3 linked regions of the Homo sapiens genome follow. The protein of the gene in region 1 interacts with the protein of each later gene in a pairwise test. Each region holds a gene or a part of one and is shown in the gene's direction. Other genes may lie near its edges.

What was found. Proteins that work in one complex are often made in the same cells at the same time.
Region 2: the proteins of MOB2 (region 1) and SFT2D2 interact in binary tests that used the Homo sapiens proteins (3 or more experiments, as listed by UniProt).
Region 3: the proteins of MOB2 (region 1) and STK38L interact in binary tests that used the Homo sapiens proteins (3 or more experiments, as listed by UniProt).

Annotation. Positions count from the first base shown.
Region 1 is NC_000011.10:1,483,772-1,490,981, reverse strand, and holds the start of MOB2 (MOB kinase activator 2), read left to right. Parts: upstream 1-4,202; 5' UTR 4,203-4,425; coding exon 4,426-4,535; intron 4,536-7,210. UniProt on the Homo sapiens protein: Stimulates the autophosphorylation and kinase activity of STK38 and STK38L.
Region 2 is NC_000001.11:168,235,989-168,243,012, forward strand, and holds part of SFT2D2 (vesicle transport protein SFT2B), read left to right. Parts: intron 1-600; coding exon 601-636; intron 637-723; coding exon 724-782; intron 783-3,142; coding exon 3,143-3,172; intron 3,173-6,512; coding exon 6,513-6,552; 3' UTR 6,553-7,024. UniProt on the Homo sapiens protein: May be involved in fusion of retrograde transport vesicles derived from an endocytic compartment with the Golgi complex.
Region 3 is NC_000012.12:27,247,271-27,254,294, forward strand, and holds part of STK38L (serine/threonine-protein kinase 38-like), read left to right. Parts: intron 1-7,024. UniProt on the Homo sapiens protein: Involved in the regulation of structural processes in differentiating and mature neuronal cells.

The DNA of each region.
Region 1 (7,210 bases):
GTTCTTCCAGCTGAGAGGGCCTGGAAGCAGTGACACCCACTAGCAACGAGCCCACCCAGTGCTCTGATCTTAGTGTTTTCGTTTCTCGTTTGTGTAGACCCAGGCTGGAGTGAGGTGGTGTAGTCATGGTTCACTGCAGCCACCAACCTCCTGGGCTCAAGTGATCCTCTCACTTCAGCTCCTCAGTTGTTGAAACCACAGGCACATGCCACTATGCCCAGATAATTAAAAAAAAAAAATTGTTTTAGAAATGGGGGTCTTGCTGTGTTGCCCAGGCTGATCTGAAACTCCTGGCCTCAAGCGATTCACTTACCTGGGCCTCTCAAAGTGCTCTTGAGATTCCAGATGTGAATCAACGTGCCTGACCAGGTCTCAGTTTTGAATTCATTCATTACTGTTTTGGGGCAGGGTCTCGCTCCGTCACCCAGGCTGGAGTGCAGTGGTGTGATTATGGGTCACAGCAGCCTCAATCTCTTGGGCTCAAGTGATCCTCCTGCCTCAGCCTCCCATGTAGCTGGGAACACAGACACACACCACTATGCCTGGCTAATTTTTACATTTTTTGTAGAGATGGGGTCTCCCTTTATTGCCCAGGCTGGTCTCAAACTCTTGGGCTCAAGTGATGGTCCCTTCTTGGCCTCCCAAAATACTGGGATTACAGGCATGAGCCACCATGCCTGGCCATTTTTTTTTTTTTTTTTTTTTTTGAGACGGAGTCTTGCTCTGTCGCCCAGGCTGGAGTGCAGTGGTGCGATCTCAGCTCACTGCAAGCTCTGCCTCTCGGGTTCACGCCATTCTCCTGCTTCCGCCTCCCGAGTAGCTGGGACTACAGGCGCCTGCCACCACACCCGGCTGATTTTTTTGTATTTTTAGTAGAGACAGAGTTTCACTGTGTTAGCTCGGATGGTCTCGATCTCCTGACCTTGTGATCCTGACCTTGTGGGAGGCCCGTCTTGGCCTCCCAAAGTGCTGGGATTACAGGCGTGAGCCACCACGCCCGGCTGCCTGGCCAGTTTTTAATATTTTCTAATGAAAAGAACCAGGGCTCCTTGGAGAAGGGGCTGATTCCCGGGCTGGGGCTGGGAATGCAGGGGGAGCCTGGAGCACCCTGCAGTGCCAGGAAATCAGGACATGCCCCAAAATGAAAAGTCTGTTGATGGGGGTGCATCAGGGGACCCAGCAGCTGATGGCAGGAGCTCCCCAGGGCCAAGGACGGACAGTGTGATTCACAAAACAAAGTAGTGTTGTGTTCTAGCTCGGAGTGCAGCCTCAATAGCCAGGACTTCATCCCAATATAAACAAATGGCTGAATATATAAATGAGTGACCAAGAAGAGGCCGCTCTCTGGTGCCGAACTTCCAGTAATTCCCGTAGCTACTCCTCCGTCAGGGTGGTAAGGGGTGGTCCCCACCCCTTCAGTGTGGTCTGCGTGCAGCAGCTTCGTTCGAGAGCGCGGTGCGGGGCGGGGAAGACGAGAGCGTCTTTGCGTGGGGAGGCCTGGCAGTCACAGCCTCAGCCAGGAGATCGGGAGCACCTCCCGCGATGAGCCGTGCTGACAGGACGGGCCGTGGGCACGGGGCGACGAGGGGGACATTTCCCTCTGTGCTCTTCCTACCCACACCCACAGCCCAGCCTCGTCGTGAGGAGAGCAATGGATGGATCCAGACGTCTGAGTCAAGTTTGGACCTTGCTGCATCAATGTGGATTTGTTCATTGTTAACAAACAGACCATCCTAGTGTAAGGGTTAGCAATAGGAAGAGTGAGTGGGGGGCCATGGGGATTCTGTGTTTGCAGTTCTTTGTAAATCTAACACTTTTCTAAAACTAAAAGCTTATTAAAGGTAAAATAACCTCTGACACAGACACATGGCCCGTGCCCCCTGCCCCGTCCCGCCTTGGTTGCGACCGTTCCCCCCTGCGTGGTGCCTCTGCCCCGCTCCTGTGCTCTCTGTTCCTGGCCAGCTCCTGGCCCTGGCTGTGCCCAGAAGGTGCTTTTGCTCTTCCTTTTCTGGGGTGGCGGGGCCAGGCCACACTGGCACCCGTCACTGGCCTGCGGGCCTCTGTGGCAGCTCCTCGTGGAGTCTGCAGAGCCTGCTCCAGGTCTGCTCCTCTTCCCAGTGCAGTGTCTGTCGCTCAGTGTCTGTGGGTTCCAGCTGCCCCTCACCCTACCCCACTCCTGCCCCACTACCTAAGTTTTGATCAATAGGAATACCTGCTCCCTGCACGTGTCCCCCAGTGAACAAACACAGATGAATGTGGACGTTCCTCTGGCGCCAGCCCAGCCCTCTCGGGACAGTGGCATAAGCCACAGAGCTGCCGTGTGCTGACCAGACCCACTGGGCACACTTGGTGTGCTCCCCCACCCTACCGGGCACCTTGTCTTGACTGTTCCCCCGCCCCCGTGCCACCCTCACCACTGCCTTGCCTGGACCAGACTAGGCACGCTTGGTGTGCTCCCCCCACCCTACCCGGCACCTTGTCCTGACTGTTCCCCCGCCCCCGTGCCACCCTCACCATTGCCTTGCCTGGTTGCCTGGCTTCTTGTGCCCGAAGCCTCCACCATCCCCAGCTTCCTTTATGCTCTGCCCTCCAACCCCCAGCAGCTCATTCTCCCTGTCATGGGCCTCTGCACGGCCTTCTCTGTCCAGGCCATGCCTCCCGAGAGTGGGCAGGTCTGCGTCATGCACCTCCTGGTCCCAGCCCTGCTACTCACGGGGGCCTCCCCAGGCCTGGAGCCCGCTCTTCCTGTGGCTCCCTTTGCCACTTGGGTGACCTGCCAGCACCTGTGTCCCTGCTGTTGGTGGAGCCCCCGAGGGCAGACCGGCAGCCGTGAGCACGGTGCCTAGGTGCGTGTGGCACCACAGGGCTGTGGGATGGCCTTGCCAAGGCAGAGGAAGGCCTGTGGGCGCATGGACGTCCTGAGCCTCACCGGGCTGTTTGTTCTGTAGAGACCAGTTACGCACTGCTCAGAGCATGGCTTAGGGACTGGCCTAGTGGGGAAAATGAAACTGCAGCCTGTTGGGCCTGCTGCTGCTGCTGCTTAGGGAGGCGGGGGCCGGCCTGGGGCCATCCTCTGCTGTGGCTCCTGGAGAGTGTGTCTGTGCTGGGTTGGTGTGCTGTCTCCCCGTGCGCCCAGGCTGTGTGTGTGCGTGCAGTCCAGACACCACAACTCCCATGGGGGCTGGTATTGATGGGGGTGAGCCTACCCTGGCTGCTTTCCTGATGGCTCTGTGCTCCCCGCAGCAGCTGGTACCTCAGGCTGTGTCCTGACTCCTACAGGGCTTCACACCGACAGAGGTGCTGGGACAGCTTCTGAGGGGCAGTGGCTGGAGATGCTGGGGTCTCTTGATTGGCAGGAAGCACAGGAAGTATGGCTCCCATGCGGGTGGGGGATGCTCCTGATGACCCCGTGTTGTCAGGGGGCTGTCACTGCCAGTGGGGTCCACGCTGACTCAGGATGAGGAGAGAGCATTGCCCTCTCAGGTGTTTGCATTTTCAGGATGTGGTGGTCTCCTGTGTGCAGACCAGCCAGAAGGAAGGCCGGGGCCGTGCCGCTCTGTGCGCCCCCATGGGGAGCTGCTGTGGGCATTTCTGTTGGGCTGGGTGCCCTGTGGTCCTGGCTGGCAGCAGCCTCAGCCCAGCACCGTCCAGGCACCGCAGAAGCTGGTCGGCCCCTTCTCTCTCCAGGGCCATCCAGCAGGAAAGCCACTTTGAGTGCCTCCAGCTGCGTACACACTGCAGGGCAGGGCGGCCCATCTGTCTGTCCGTCTGTCCGTCCCTGGCCCGAGCACTGACTGGGCTAGGCTGGGCCGGACAAGGGAGAGGGGAGTGCCATCGACCTGGAGCTCGTCAGCAGAGTTGCTGCCTGTGTTCAGAAGGCCTTTCCTGGGGGCTTGGCAGCAGAGGACCTTGAGGTGGAGCCCAGGACCTTTCTGATGGATCCTTCTTGCAGGCCAAGGACGGCCCTGTCCCCTCCCTTCTGGTCCCACCCCCACCGCCTCTTCTGGCAGCCTGAGGTGGAGCCCAGGACCTTTCTGATGGATCCTTCTTGCAGGCCAAGGACGGCCCTGTCCCCTCCCTTCTGGTCCCACCCCCACCGCCTCTTCTGGCAGCCTGAGGTGGAGCCCAGGACCTTTCTGATGGACCCTTCTTGCAGGCCAAGGACGGCCCTGTCCCCTCCCTTCTGGTCCCACCCCCACCGCCTCTTCTGGCAGCCATGCCACTTGGAAAAGGCCAATTCAGACGCTCCCTCGTTTCACCAGCCTTGGCCAGCCCTTGCCTCTGGAAAGGGGGCAGCTGTTTGTCTCTGCCAGGCGTCCCATTGGCCAGGGAGTGAGGCTGGAGGGCCCGGCAGCAGGCATTTGCGAGTGCTGGCCAGCCGGCACCCCGCCCCGCTTCTCCTCCCCACCTTCCCGTCGCCCACTCATGCTGGGAGACCACTGCAGTCTCCCTGAAGACCAAGCCCGGCCCGGCCAGTCCCTGCAAAGTGGACTCTGCTGCAAAATGGTGCTTCAGGCTGTCAGCAAAGTGCTCAGGTAACACCTGCCAGCCTGGCTGGGGGAGGGGTGTGTAGCACATCTGTCTGCCCTGTTCTTGCCCCCAGGAAGGAGGTCAGGGTGGGGAGGCGGCGGACTGTGTCCGTGGCTGCCCTCCCAGTGTGGCCGGCGGCTGTGCAGCGAGCTGTGCTGGGCCACACGCAAGCTGTCCAGGGCAGAGGCGGCTGTGCAGTCCCGGGCCAGCCTGGCGGGTTTGCTCTGGAGCCCTGCCCAGTGGGGCTTTCCTTAGCCGCCTGCACTTCCTGTTGCTCTGTGGGAGAGGAGCGGGTCTTGGTGTCCTCGACCTTCGGGGTTGACCCCACCTTGCCGGCACAGGAGCCTGCCTTGTCCTCCCGCAACCCACAGGGTGTGGTTCCTCAGCCGCCAGCAGGTGTGCCTGTCTTTGTCCCAGCGTGCGGCTGTTTGTGCCCTGGGCAGGGGCTTCAGCCACCCAGGCAGAGGTGACCCGGAGTCTGTCCTTGTGTGGCCTTGTCCAGAGAAGTGGCATGGGGTTCCCGGGTGCCTATTTTTGTGCTGGCTGCCATAGGGATGTTGCCGGAAAATCCATTTTTGACATTTTTCTCACCTGTACTTTCTCTGACCTGCTGCGGGGGTGCCTCCCTGCCCACACCACTCAGCTCGGTGTGTGCAGGGGCGTGTGTGGGAGTGTGCGCCCAAGTGTGTGGGAGCGTGCACCCGTGTGTGTGGGAGTGTGCACCCGTGTGTGGGCATGAGGGGCCGGGGGAGTGGGGCAGGCACAGCCAGCTGCAGCAGTGAGTGTGTCCTCCCGGGTGGGGTTGCCTGGTGGGGGTGTGAGGCGAGCGTGGCCTGCTGGACGTGCCCTCCAAGGGCCGGGGGCTGCGGCACCCGTGTGCATCTCCGTGCCTCTGCCTGTCCCTGGGCACCCGGCTCCATCTTTCTCTTCATAGGCTCCTTCCCTATCTCCCGATCACCTGTGCATTCAACAGGGAGGGCTCCACAAGTAGACACAAGAGTGCCGGCCGGTGACCCTGCCTAGGATGTCCTATCTTAAGGTGAAACTGTGAGGTTTTGGAAATGTGTGGGCAAGTTGGCAGTACTCGTGAGTTCAAATCAGGAATGGTGCCTGACATCAGTGGTGTGAGGGGACTGGCGTGTGTGTGTGTGTGCCTGTGCCAGTGTGTGCTTGTGTGTCTGAGGCCAAATGCCGAAGGCAGCTCCACAGGAGACACAGAGGCAGGCCTGGAGCCCAGCCAGGCCCTAAGGAAGACGGGCGGAGTCCCTTCCCTGGGGCTCAGGAAGGTTTCAAAGGAAGCGATGAGGAAGCCACCTTGGCTGGGAGCTGGATGCATGGAGGGGCCGAGGCGCAGTGGAGCATGGTGGCCACGTGGGGCTGAGGTTCTAGGACAGCAGCAGCACCTGCCTGTTTGGACGTTTGGTCTGGGATGTCTGCGGGCGTTCCTTGTGCCATCTTGGCTTTTTCCTTCTCAATGGGCCTCTGCAGAGGGCACAGTAGGCTGGTAAAAGCTCGCTTTGTCTGGGGCTGCTGACCTGTTTGGGGGGGCAGACAATTAAACTCAGAAGAAAAGAAGCCACACTCCACAGCTTCCAGCTGGCTGAAGCCTGTGGGCAGTGCAGGCTGTGCTGAGAGATGGACAGGGGCTCCGGAGGCCTTCCCACCCCTCAGCCTGAGGCCGTGTGACAGAAGTGGGATCAGCACCCAGGGAGAACTCGGGTTAGAACACGGTGTTAGAAATGCAGTTTTCAGGCCCCCCCTCAACACCCAGAAGGCCACATCAGAAATGTAGGGGTGGGGGTGGCGCCAAGCACCCCAGCATGTGGTGCCCTCCCTGCATGTTGGGGTGACAGGAGGTGCCCGTGGCGTGCACCCTGGGCAGCAAGGTGTGCTGAGACCCAGGCTCTGTACCGGGTGGCTACTGGGGGCTCTGCCTGGCCGGGTCTTGGGGGAAGGGGTCACTGGGAGCCTTGACTTTCAGGCTCTGGGTGGACCAACCAGCACTGACATTCACCCGAACCAAGGAGCATGAGGGGCCCGGTGCAGATGGCTGAGTGGGGTCCAAGGACCATGCCCTCCTCAGAGGCGTCACCTGCGGGCCTTTCTCCTGCACCCCACACGCTGCCTGGTCACCGTATTTTCCAGGCCTGGGCTTGGGGACTTGTATTTCTGGGCCCCTCGTGCCTGCCCCACCCCTTGGCGTTGACCTGTGGTGGGAAGTGCCAGATGAGGGCCACCTCCTGCTGCTGCCCACTCACCTCAGGGTCTACAGGCTCGACTTCCATAGCAAGCGTGCTCTGGGCGAGTGGGGGTCTCTGAGCCTGGAGCACCCCATTCCTGTGGGCCGTGGGGCCTGGCCAGGATTCCATCCCTGTGATAATGAAGTTGACACTCGTGGCAAAGGTGCAGGGCACTCGGTTGTGCTGTCCTCGTCCCTCAGGGCGGATGAGGAGTGGGCGGCTCCCAGCCCACTCCCCAGCTCCCCCTGCCTGTGAAGCAGTGTGCACCTGCTGTGGGCAGGGTGAGACCCCCTGTGTGTTGACTGTGTGGTTGTCTAAGTTTTCCACGGGAGCCCAGCAGCTCTGATGCCTCCCTGTGCCCCTTCCCTTGCCCACCAAATTTGTGTCTAGCAGGGATTGCCTCACTTCCCAGTAGGGATCAGTTACGTGCTGGGTGCCAA
Region 2 (7,024 bases), on another chromosome or scaffold:
TATTTGAGTAGTTATTGTTATAGAAGGATGGCGAAGAAAGGCATGGCTGACTGCTCTAGCACCAGTTGTCCTTGGCCAGCCTCAGATGCCCACGGCCTGGACAAGTCTCTTGCAGAAAGAGCTTTCTAAGAATGGCCTTAGGGAAAGTGTTAGGTGATAGGTACACAAGTAACTGGCATGCTGACTGTGAGATTGATATCTCAGGTTAACCTTTGTCCTCACATGTGCTTTCTGCTGCAGAGACTAGCATTTGGTAGGAGTTAAAATAGAAAGATTTGTGTTAAGCTTACTTTAGTGCATTTGAATGAAAAGATGGATGGACGGATGAATGGGTGGGCCTGAAATGTGATTTGTTTGCTGGGCAGAGGTTCTGGGAAAACTTGAAAGTAAAAGAACATCTTATCTATGTGAATCTTTATTGGCTAGTTTGATTTCATGGAGATTTTTAACTATTCTGCCAAATATGGGTGCTCAGGTGGGTTAACTGCTTTGAGATGAAGGATGCATAAGTTTTGTGCATTTGTGAAGAATAACAAGTTTTGAGTTTTTTTTTTCCTGCCATGTTATTGTCATTAATTAATGTTTCCTTTCTTCCTTTAGTTGTGTTTTGCACTTACCCTGTGTTCTGCCTTTTGGGTAAATGTATATTTTAATTTTTCTTAACCATTTTGGCTTTTGCCCCTTGTCTCACACTCTCCTATAACCATATTATTATTTTTCCAGTGGCATAACAAGGGACTTGCACTTATCTTCTGCATTTTGCAGTCTTTGGCATTGACGTGGTAAGTAACCTTTTAAACAATCCCCTCCCACATAGCCCACTGAATAATGTAGCCAAAGGAGATAAAACTCACATATTGTGGGTGGGAGAATTAAGAAAACACAGAAGCTGTTTAATTTAAGGATTCGTAATGATGAAAGTGAAGTCAGGCTCCAGAGCAAATGCCTATCAACCCAGCCCACTGCCAATAGATGGCATTAGTGGTCTTGAGTGGTCACAGGAGGCTCCTTGTTTGCCTGCTGTGGCATTTTTGCTGAACTAATGGTTGATTTTTGAGATGTTACAAATATTATTAAGCCACTCATGTCCGGTAAGTGCAAGGACAACAAAAGTATTATAAGGGATGTTAAAAAGGCTTGTGAGTCCAATAGAGGTTAACAAAAAAGGAAAGTGGTAAGAAAAATAATGAATGTTACATTTGTGATAGAATGAATCATTTAACAGAAGGACAAAGAGTGAACTGTCAGCAGGAGATGAGGAACAGTCACTGACGAAATGGAAAAACGTGTGTCTGTGGGCTGTAGGATCAGCGTATGTGCTCAGAGGCTTGTTGGCTTTTGGTAATTCAGCTGAAGAGTAGGAAATTGTAACTCCAGAGCCAAGTATAGTAAAAGGGCCGCTGGAGACATTTTGGGAAACCATGAGTGGGGCTGTAGGTTCATGGTCCTTTCAAGCCTATACGACCTCAGAGTGAGAGGGGTGGTGGCATAGTTGGAATCTGTAGGTTCCAAGACATTTCTGTAGTTCTTTCAAAGTTTATCAAGGGATGGTATCTGCCAGAACAGTTTCAGTATAGATGTGACTCACCTATTTTTGAAAAAAATGTTTGCTACAGTGTAAAGAAAGGAGGATTGTGGACATTTTAAAGTTCTGAAGAATTGGTTAACTCCTATTTGGTAGAAATGAATCTTGAGACTGTAAGCTTAACTCCCATCCCTCCCTTTAGCAATTTTGGACTTTTGAATAAATATAGTTACAAATTGCCTTTTGGAATTTACTGTGTTGACAAGTAATTGAGCTTCTGTACATGTTAAGTATAAGATATGGAGAAGGATGCTGGTGTTTGTGTTTATGTGTGTGTGTGTGTGTATGTTTTTTTTTTTTTTAAATGACATGCACATTTGAGTGGTAGACTGTTTATATTTTGATTTTTCTTCCAGGGCAGAAATTGGTACCTATATACACACACCTTGCTTTGCTTATAGACTGATTTTGAATCCAGTTTCAGAGGTTCAGCATTCATATGGGTCCAGCTGAATGGTGATATTCCCTTCAACACTCATGTGTTCTGACTGTGTTTGCTTTTCTAAGGGCTAACTTACAGTCTGCCTGACACACAGTGCCTGGTTCTTTAGCATTATGGAGCCTGTTCCTTGTATATGGTTTCCTTCTAAGTGACAGGGCTGAGCTAACTGGAATTTACCAAGATACCTTTGGACGTACTACATTTTCACTCATAGAGTAGTTGGTAGCATTTTTTTCTTCTTCTTTTTTATTCTCTTTTCTCTTCTTTTAAAATTAATAGGAGCAGAGCAGAAAATTTATCCCAATTAGGTAGAAGTTAAATTCTGTTTAGAATTTATAAAATGTTAGGAGTTCAACTGTGCCAGGTATGGGTGGCTCACACTGTAATGCCAAGACTTTGGGAGGCTGAGGTGGGAGGATTGCTTGAAGCCAGGAGTTTGAGACTAGCCTGGACAGTGTAGCAAGACCGGGTCTCTGCAAAAAAACAAACAAACAAACAAAAAAAAACATTAAAAAATTAGCCGGGCATGGTGGCACATACTTGTAGTCCCAGCAATTCTGGAGGCTGAGGCAGGGGGATTGCTTGAGCTTCCTAGACTTGAGCCTAGAAATTCAAGGCTGCAGTGAGCTATGATTGAGCCACTATATTCCAGCAGCCTAGGTGACGAGCACGACCCTGTCTCAAAAAAAAAAATAAATAAATAAATAAAGGAGGGGGGTGCGGTTCAACTGTTCTGGGTTTTATTTGATATTTTTTCAGAATAGAGTTTCTGTGCCATCTGGGTATTTGAAATCTGACTGTTTAAGGTGATTGTTGCTAGTTCAAGGTTATAGCAGTACTGCATTGAGGCCGAGGTCATACGGGTTATCTCCACATGAACCTTTTGCCCTTCTTCTGTGGCTGCCTATCTGTACATGGCCATAGTGTGTGTGTTTGGGTACACGTGCATGCACATGCGTGGGCCTTTGTGTGCACATGCTCATCCCCCAGGCTGAGTATGGGAGAGGGTCTGGATAGATCACTGCAGGTATTCTTACAGCTCAGAAGCCCATTCTGCTGGATAATCTGCTACTCCCTTCATCTCATTTGACCCTTTGTTTTGTTTTTCATTATAGGTACAGCCTTTCCTTCATACCATTTGCAAGGTAAGACTGTGTATTTGGAAATAATGATTTCTGTCATTTTAATTCAGAGTCTGCTTTCAGAGAGTATAGCCTATTTTATTTATCTTTACTGAAGTCTTTTGAGTCAAGTAGACAAATACTATACATCTCATTTATAGATAAGTAAGTTAAAGGTCACCCCACCACCCACTCTAATTATACAACTAATGATGGATATTTACCCAGGTACACTGATTTCCAATGCTGTGAACATTCTACTCTTATATATGGTGCATATATGCACATTATTACTCTTTTAACCCGTAGCTTTGAGTAGGGTTTTTTTTTTTTTTTTTTTTATAAAGGTGAATGTCATTTCATATCACTGAGTAAGATATGGAGGGATCTCAATTCGTGCTTCTTGCAGTATCCCACTGCTGGGAAGGTTTCACAAGAGTTTATAAAGGGAGAGTAAGCAGTACCAGGGCTTCCTAATTAGCAGTGTGACCTCGAGCAGCTCTCTTGACCCCTCTGGCCTCAAAGCATCGATAAGTAGACTGAGTTGGTCTAGATCATCTCCAGAGGCCTCTTTTAGCTCTGAAATTCTAATACTCCATACCTCTTTAAGCACTTTCAGTGACGGACCTCTCAAAATTAGCCGCATGATCTTTGCCTCTGACTTTGTTCTAATGCAACTATTTAACTTCTGTTCTTTTTTTTTTTTTTTTATCATTACCTGTTAATTAAAAACAAGCTTTTTAAAAAAACTGTACTGGGCCAGGTGCAGTGGCTCACGCCTGTAATCCCAGCACTTTGGGAGGCCGAGGCGGGTGGATCCTGCTGTCAGGAGATCGAGACCATCCTGGCTAACACAGTGAAACCCCGTCTCTACTGAAAATACAAAATATTAGCTGGGCGTGGTGGCAGGCGCCTGTAGTCGAAGCTACTTGGGAGGCTGAGGCAGGAGAATGGCGTGAACCCAGGAGGCGGAGCTTGCAGTGAGTCGAGATGGCGCCACTGCACTCCAGCCTGGGCGACAGAGCGAGACTCTGTCTCAAAAAAAAAAAAAAAAAAAGTACTGAGGAAATGAAAAATTATGCATGACTTGGGAAGGAGGAAGAGCAATCTTATGTCTTAACAAATTCCAAGACTGTTGCTGACAGTGATTTGAAAGTATTGAGGAGTGATTGATTGGATGCGAAGTTAAGCCTTTCAAGTGAAAGGCAGCTGAGTGGCTTTGTTGATAGATTCTAGGAGGGTAACAGTTATGAAATACTCCATGCAGACCTGGCTGGTTTTGGGGCCTGGTGGCTTGTCTGAGAAGAATATGGGCAGGGATGTCCTGGGAAGCTAGATTTTTATGTGAAGTAAACCGGAGTTCATCATTACTGAGGATCCAATGAGATATTGATCAACCTGCCAACATATGAATATTTTTTGGTCCCTGAACCAGCTGCATAGTTTTCAGGGCCCAGTGCAAAATAAAAATGTGAGCTTCTTGTTCAAAAATCATAGGCCGGGCACGGTAGCTCAGCCTATAATCCCAGCACATTGGGAGGCTGAGGTGTGCGGATCACGAGGTCAGGAGTTCAAGACCAGCTTGACCAACGTGGTGAACTCCTGTCTTTACTAAAAATACCAAAATTAACCGAGCGTGGTGGCGTGCACCTGTAATCCCAGCTACTCAGGAGGCTGAGGCAGTAGAATCGCTTGAACCTGGGAGGCGGAGGTTGCACTGAGCCGAGATCACGCCATTGCCCTCCAGCCTGGGCAACAGAGGGAGACTCTGTCTCAAAAAAAAAGATTAAGAATTTCAAGATGGCAACATCAAATCAAGGCATTAAACCCAATGTGGACCCTTCTGAGTATGGGGCCAATGCAGTTGCACAGGTCTCATTCGTGAAACTTGCTTGGAGTCATTTGTCAGAGCTTCAGTCTTGATCTGGATTGGCATGTATAAAATTTATGTACAAGTGATTGATAGAATGAGGGAATTTTATTTGAGATAGTGAGTTTCATGTGCTGAGGAGACGAATTACTCCTCTAGTAGGGAGGGAATCACAGAGCTAGATCCCACCCTTCTATTCTTTTTTTTTTTTTTTTTTTTGAGATGGAGTCTCACTCTATGGCCCAGGCTGGAGTGCAGTGGCCCGATGTCAGCTCACCTCAGTCTCCAACCTCCTGGCTTCAAGCTGTTCTCCTGCCTCAGCCTCCATGTGCACGCCACCATGCCAGGCTCATTTTTTGTATTTTTAGTAGAGATGGGGTTTCACCGTGTTGGCCAGGCTGGTCTCGAACTCCTGACCTCAAGTGATTGGCCCACCTCGGCCTCCCAAAGTGCTGGGTTTACAGGTCCGAACCACCATGCCTGGCCCCACCCTTCTATTTGTAAGTTCCCCTGGAATAGCTTTTCCCACAGTGTTCCACAGAAATAGTGTTTCTGTGGAAGAAAAGAGTTCTATGATCAAGTAAGTTTGAGAAACAGGTTAAGCAAAATTAGGTAGGTTCCTCTTTGCCTGGCTTGCTAGATCCTTCCATATGCTATGTGTATTGTGAGCTGCCATGAGGGGGACTTATGTGGCCATAAAACCCTTCTTGTGCAGAGACTCTTCTGAGACTACAGTGCAGAGTATATCTCAAGAAATGCTGCCCTGGAACCATCTTGATATTAAAATGCAGTGCCTACTCATGGAAATGCATCCATTCACCTCTCCCTCCCTTATGTGACTCCCAATGTCCTTAGTGCAGCACAGTTGAGAACGTGGAACAGAGCTGGGGTATGAGAAGCCTAGTGCCACATTGCACAGTGTGGTGTGGTGGTGGAAATGGAAGTGCTTGCTTGGGTAGAATAGTAATTTCTTGAAGACCAACTCTTCCTTGCACCCTCTACACTGAATTCCAAGCAGTAAATACCTGTGATAAGGCCATTATAGCATATTAATAAGTGCTCAGGACCCATAGTGAGCTCCCTTCTGCTGCCTGCTTAGAATGAAGAAAGGTCCCAGTTAATATTTGATTTAATGCTGTCAGTGCATTCTGTGATTTTGACCGATATTAAAGTGCAGCAATCCTGACTGATTTCTTAGTTTCTGACAGTCTATGTTATCTTTTTCTCTGATTATGATGGCTAATCCCATAATCAGACTGTCGGGTAAGTGGGGACATCCCCTCTTACAGATGAGGAATTTGAAACTCAAACAGGACAAGGAACTTTCCCAGGATAGTACTACTAATAAATGTTGAAGCTGCAGTTTGATGCTGTGAAGGTCTGATCTTTCAGTCTAGGTGCTTTCTACTCTGCAGCTTCCACTCTGGGTGCCCTCTAAAGGAGTGCCTTTGGGGTGATGACGTTCCACTCATCTTTGTGTCTTTTCTTTCCTAGGGATGCTGTGAAGAAGTGTTTTGCCGTGTGTCTTGCATAATTCATGGCCAGTTTTATGAAGCTTTGGAAGGCACTATGGACAGAAGCTGGTGGACAGTTTTGTAACTATCTTCGAAACCTCTGTCTTACAGACATGTGCCTTTTATCTTGCAGCAATGTGTTGCTTGTGATTCGAACATTTGAGGGTTACTTTTGGAAGCAACAATACATTCTCGAACCTGAATGTCAGTAGCACAGGATGAGAAGTGGGTTCTGTATCTTGTGGAGTGGAATCTTCCTCATGTACCTGTTTCCTCTCTGGATGTTGTCCCACTGAATTCCCATGAATACAAACCTATTCAGCAACAGCACATAAGCCTTGGGTGCAAGTGATTCCCAGGTGGCAAAAGGCAGCCCCATCAGAGATCACGGGAGCAACAGTAAGGGACAGAGTTTTGGGGTCCACTTGTCCCTCAGCATGGAAGCCATCACCGTGGTCCTGCATAGAGTGAGTCTGCTTCTACTCTGGCATC
Region 3 (7,024 bases), on another chromosome or scaffold:
TTGAGTGGTAGGACCAGGATTCTGACCCAGGCATTCTGGCTTGTACCCATATGGCATGCTTAACTGCAATCCATATTTTCTCTCCTGTTCATGATGGTCTTCCTCAGATCTGTAGTTTCAAAAACTTGACTTGGGAAATACATTCTTCTGACATCTAAATTTTGGGGTCAGTTTTCTAGAAAGAGTTCCAAAATAACACCCAAGTAAATGAGTTATTTTTGACATGTTATTTTAATCCATTTTTGGAAGTTATTCTTGGTGCAGATTAAATATAACTATTGAGTGGGACTTTTTAATAATTTTGACTTATTACCTATAAGTACTCATAAGAACTTAGAAGTGAGAAGTTATTCCATATTAACTCTTTTGCTTAATGGAATGTTTGCGTCTTTGTATATTTTGTCCTGTAATTTATTTTTTTTAAAGAAAGAACCTCACTGTCTTGCCCAGCCTGGACTCGAACTTCTGGGCTCAGATGATCTTCTTGCCTCCTAAGTTGCAGGAACTATAGGCCTGAGCCACTGTGTTTGGCTTTGTTCTGTAATTTTTTTTTTTTTTTTTTTTGACAGAGTTTAAGTCTGTCTTTTAGGCTGGAGTGCAGTAGTGCAATCATGGCTCATTGCAACCTCTGCCTCTCAGGCTCAAGCGATCCTCCCACCTCAGCCTCCTGAGTAGCTCGGACTACAGGTGTGCACAAGCACGCCCGACTGATTTTTAAATTTTTTGTAGAGACAGGGTTTCACTATGTTGCCCAGCCTGGTCTCGAACTCCTTGGCTCAAGTGATCCTCCTGCCTTGGCCTCCCAAATGTTGGGATTACAGGTGTGAGCCAATGTGCCCAGCCCTGTTCTATAATTTTTTAAACCACTTGGCACTGGATAGTTTTTGGGTTGAATTATGAAGTTGAAATTTAGTTAATGATTGAATGTTGGTCTCAGCCCTTTTAGTTTATTTTCATGAATAGCTATGCTTATAATGGCAGAAACAGGGTGAATAGAGTGTTGTACATGTAAAAATGAGAGAAGTTCCATCACTGATACTTTATGTTGGGGCAACTTTGACAGTTCTTTGGGTTTGTGAAATAAAGGGTGCTATAGAAGTGCACAGTGTCTTGTATAGGCCTACTCAGTACTGTAAATGTCCACCTGATTTTATTTATGAAGTTTCAGGAATAGTCCACATTTGTTATTGTTTAAGAATTGGAATCACAAATTCAATTGGATTTAAAGGTTAGAAAAAAAGTATACCTAGGCAGGGAATACAGCAGGTGAGCGGTGGGAGAGGTATTGCCTGCCTTTTCCTAACTGTCCAGCAGGATCCAGACTCTTCAGCTTCTTTGTCAGTGCCTGCAGTTGACCGTACTCATAGTTTAAGTACAGCTCCAGAGTCATAGTCTCTGTGAACGAATATAAGTATTCTCCACTTGACTCAATGGGGTAGGTTCTAGAAGACACCTATACTAGGACAGTTGATGGTTGATGAGCTTAAAACCTAATGGGAAGAGTAGCAGAACTAAAGCCAGGATTTAAAGCACGTGTGTTTATATTATTGAAATAAGACAGAGATGGCAAAACAAATTTTAAAAAGTTTTTTTTTGAAACATACCTTAAATTAATAGTGATGGTATATCATTTCCATTTACCATGCCCTGATTGGCAGATCTTTAGCCCATCATTTCATGGAGATACTTAGATGTGGACTTCGCTTTGTTATAAAAAGTTTCCAAGTTCTTCTAAGTACAGGTGGTTTGGGAAGATTGTCTTAGTAAAAAGGTGTGTGAGTAGGTCTATCAAAAGAAAACCAGTCATACTGTTACCTCCTTGCTGATTCAAGTTTTGGGGGCATCTTTTCCCACCAGGAACAGCTTATCTGCATTGAACGTCTGCTGAGGCAGGTAGCCTGCCTCTTAGATGAGCTCTGCACAGATCTTAGGGAAGACCTTAACAGTTACAGGTCATGTGGTGACCTGATCATTCACAGTCATATTGTATAAATTCCAAACAGGCCTGGAGCCTTGGCAATTGTCTGTGGTATGTGATAACACTTCTACTATGCTTAGCTTTTATTTATTTATTTATTTATTTTTGAGACAGAGTTTCACTCTTGTTGCCAAGGCTGGAGCGCAATGCATGATTTTGGTTCACTGCAACCCCCGCCTCCTGGGTTCAAGTGATTCTCTTGCCTCAGCCTCCCAAATATCTGGGATTACAGGCACGCACCACCATGCCTGGCTAAGTTTTGTATTTTTAGTAGAGATGGGGTTTCACCATGTTGGTCAGGCTGGTCTCGAACTCCCGACCTCAGGTGATCCGCCCGCCTCGGCCTCCCAAAGTGCTGGGATTACAGGCGTGAGCCACTGCGCCTGGCCTATGCTTAGCTTTTAAATTCTTAACAAGCTCTTTACCTTCCCCTTAATTAACACCAGATCAGTTGGTAACCCAAATTGTTGATTCTCTGGCCATTTATACAGAAGGCTTCCTGTTTTCCTTGCCTTTTGCTGATTCTCGTTGATTCCACAGGTATAGAATTTCTACATGTTATAATAGATAAATCTCTGATCCCGTATGCACAGATAGCATCCATTGTTTTCTTACCTCTTTGAGTTATTTACTATCTCTCCAGCTGATTCAGGAGATTTTATTCCTCGTTTTCCTGATTCCTGGGACACTTTTACTGCTTTTGCAGTTCCTGAATAGGGTGGAGTTAATAATGTTTAACACCTCAAATCAGCTACAGATACACCCAGAATAAAGAACAAGATGGCAGAAACTAACATGAGGGCATGATAGCTAACCCAGGCATTCGGGGTTGCTGTACCTTTGCTATGGAGTCTAGCTTTCATTCTGTCTGTGAAAGTTTAGAAAATTGAGTTTGGGACAGAGAAGCTTCTGCACACATTAATGCCTACTTTTCAGGGGGCCAAGTTCTCCCATTGCTATTCTGCTTTTATGAATACGGTTATTGCTATTCTGCTTTTATGAATACGGTTATTGCTATTCTGCTTTTATGATCTGGAGATTTTGACTGCATTTCTCTTGATTCCTCACCAATTCAAGAGACACAGTAAGTAATCTGAACATTTAATATGAAGCATACTTTGTGTAATTTATATTTCTCAAAGTTTGTCTCCCAGTGGTAATATATAGATTTAGCTCCCTGAACATCATCTTTCCCTCTTAAATGTTCTTGATTCCTTTTTCTTTCTGAATGTCACCCATTAGGGCACAGGTCTGATAATTTTATCAATGCCAGTAACCACTTATCCCTTACTATGCACCAGACATAGTGCTAAGTACTTTATATATATTATCTCATTTAATCCTTATAGCAATCTTGTGAGTTATTATCTCTACCTACAAATGAGGAAATTGGAGCTTAGAGAGGTGAAGTGACTTGCCCAGGGACACACAGGTAGATAGTAAGTGGTAGAGTTAGAAATTGCTCCTTCAGGCCGGGCGCGGTGACTCACGCCTGTAATCCCAGCACTTTGGGAGGCCGAGGTGGGCAGATCACGAGGTCAGGAGATTGAGACCATCCTGGCTAACATGGCCAAACCTCGTCTCTACTAAAAATAAAAAAAATAGCCGGGCGTGGTGGCGGGCACCTGTAGTCCCAGCTGCTCAGGAGGCTGAGGCAGGAGAATGGCGTCAACCCGGGAGGTGGAGCTTGCAGTGAGCTGAGACCACTTCACTGTAGCCCAGCCTGGGTGACAGTGAGACTCTGTCTCAAAAAAAAAAAAAAAAAAAAGAAATTGCTTCTTCAGATCAGGTTTGCTCTCTCTTACATTGCATTATTTTACTACAAAAACTTCTCCTTTTCTCTTTAATTTACCTCCCTCTTCTAGTCCCACCCCAAGTTTTCTTTCTTCTCTTTTTTCCCTTCCTTTTTTGGTAATTTCCCCTTTAGGAGTTATTTACAGTTTTGCATGTCAGACATAAATTCTCTTGGGAAAAGTATGCAGAAATAATTCAATTGTATTCTGATTTCTTATAGACAGGGATTTACTCTTAGCACTTATTTTAAGAATAATACCAGGAGCCCTTATATTTGTATTACACTTTATAGTTTTATGAAGCGTTTTTACACATTTCCTTACTTAATCCTCATAGCAGTCATGTGGTCTAGGCAGTGAGGGTTATGGCTATTACACCTATTTTCAGGTAAAGAGAGGAACTCAGATTAAAGTGACTTGTCTGAGATCTCAAAATAAGAGACAGAGCCTGAATTTAAACTTAGGTCTTTCGACTCTAATATAAACACTTTATTTAACACACTGGTCTTCCTTGTAGAGTAAAAGCTGCTACAAGCAAATCGTTCACTAAGGCCTCTACAAAATTAGTTGATGAGACAAGGTTTTTGCCCTTAGCAATTACAGTGCTGAAATAAATGATATAATCAAATGTTCTGACTTCATTTAAGCCAATTAGGAGTGGGTAAATATCATTATAGCATGGCATTTTCTAAAGTTTTAAGCCTTGAGCTTTGTTTTGTTTTGTGAGAATTGAGAACCTGGAATTTTAGTTCTGCATTTTAAATCATGAAATGTTAAAGTCCTTAATTCTTAAGTTATTGTCTATCTCATTGTGCACTCAATTGCTTACATTCTAACTAAAACAATTATGATAAAGGAATAGGGTGAAGGGAGGACAGACATAAACAGTGAAATTAAGGAATTGGGAATCCTAACAAGGGCTTGCTGAGGTATCTTACAGTAGCACTTTTTTTTTTGAGACGGAGTCTCGCTGTGTCACCCAGGCTGGAGTGCAGTGGCGCGATCTCAGCTCACTGCAAGCTCTGCCTCCCGGGTTCACGCCATTCTCCTGCCTCAGCCTCCCGAGTAGCTGGGACTACAGGTGCCTGCCACCACACCTGGCTAATTTTTTGTATTTTTAGTAGAGATGGGGTTTCACCGTGTTAGCCAGGATGGTCTCAATCTCCTGACCTCGTGATCCGCCTGCCTCGGCCTCCCAAAGTGCTGGGATTACAGGCATGAGCCACCATGCCCGGCCTACAAAAGCACTTTTGTAGAAAATTGAATATGATCCTTAAAAGAATGGATAAGCTGCAAGTAGTATTCACTTCTGGAAAGTGATAATGTTTGAGAGCTCAGACAGCTTATTCAATGATCCATTTTTGACATACTATCTTGTACTAGTGTCTGTTTTATTAAATTAATTTTTACTAGCAGTGTTCATTTTTACTTAGTTAAGTGTCTACCCACTGACCTGCTCCCATTGTGGAAATACCACACCGTGTTTGCCCCTTACGACTTTTCTGTATTTGGCAGCAGAGGCTGGTTGCTCAGTTTATTGTAGTACTAGGGAGTTGCCCTTTGTTGTGTTTTTCACAACAGCGATCCATTTCATTTGAACATTTTCAGATCTGGTTGAGGATGTTCTCCATATGTCGACTCTTATCTAGACAAACAGAATAGACTTTTTCTATTTTTGTGGCTAGAGTGGAAAATTTTAGTACTGAATTGCATGTATATGACCCATTGATATTCTTGATACTGGCAAATCCTAAAGGAATCACAGACTCATAATATTTTAGTGAGGTTAATCATCATAATTCATTATTTATCAGCTATTTGCAGGGCACTGTGTTAGGTACCATGGCAAAATAGAGACAAATAGATGTTTGGCCCTCCATTTAGAAAAGTTCAGTCCAGTAAGAGGTATAATGTATGGGTACAAATGACTGTAATTCAAACAGAAAGTGACAACGGAGTAACAGGGTACTGTGGGAGCAGAGGAAAGAGAGATTGCTTCTGGCTGTAGAGATTAGGAAAGCTTCCTATATGAAGTGAAATATGAATTGAGCATTTCAGAGTGAAGGACATGCCACGCAGAGGGATTAGCATAAATTGGGTGTATCTGTACAGCACCTGGTAAGTTCTGTTAATTATCTACTTCTCTTTCTGCTCTGTTGGATTTGAACCCTTTGAACTTAGAGAATTGATGTTTTCCAGCTTTTCATTCTCTACTTCACCACCTGTTCAACTTGGTACATTAATTACTTAGAGTTGTAAGTGGCAGTAGTGTATATGGAGTGAATTCAAGGAAAGAGAGTCCAGAAATGGGAAGACCAGTGAAGAGACAAATAATCTAGGTGATAATAATGAAGTTCTAAACTAGGTGAGATTGGGAAGGAGAGACTTGCATGGATGGGTCTCTCTAGTGAAAGAACCTAGGCAGTTCTTTCACTGTGAATTGTACATAAAGTACATACCGTGTGCCAGGAGATATGGAAAGGGAAAGACATGGTGCTCCCTCAGAAGCTGGGCAGGTGACTGGAGAGCTACATTCACAGGGGTAGAAATAGCTGCAATCAGGCATAGCAGCTGTCATGAAAGAGCAGTGAGAGGCACACCTAAGGGAGAGGGGCACCTACTTGGGATAGTGAGAGAAGCTTTCCAAGGATGTGTGAGTGTTTGAGCTTAGACTTGAAGGGTGAGGAGGAGTGTTTCAGGCCGAGAAGCCTCAGGCGGGTATTATCACATAGTGATGTAAGACACGAAGCATATTAGGGGGCCACAGGAACCGGAATTGTTGCCGTGATGCTGGACAGGAGCAATGAACTTTTATTTGCTGTCTATTTATGTTTATCCAGCTTTAGCACTCTGAGCTTTTGTAAGAAAGTGTTTCTGTTGCCTCTAGTAGCCTCTTGGAAGCACCTCTTCTGTGCTTCTCACTCCCAACCTGGAGTGCAGTGCTGGTGATAAATTGTCTCTTGCTTCCATTTTGTGAAATTAAACAGAAAAAGTAAAGATACCATCAGCCAGAGAGATAAAGAGAAAAGTAAATCCACTAAAATCCTTTTCTTTGATGAAGCCTAGAACCACCGAGGTTGTTGTATAAAGAGAATGCTGCATCAAAGCACAGCTTCAAGAGCACCTGACTTGAGGGAGGGGATTGTGGTAGGAACATGATTATTTACCTTTCCCATAGGGTTTTATGGAACTCTTAAACATTTCCCAAGACTGTAATACCTAATAATGAAGTCCTTTTATTCTAGTTCTAGCC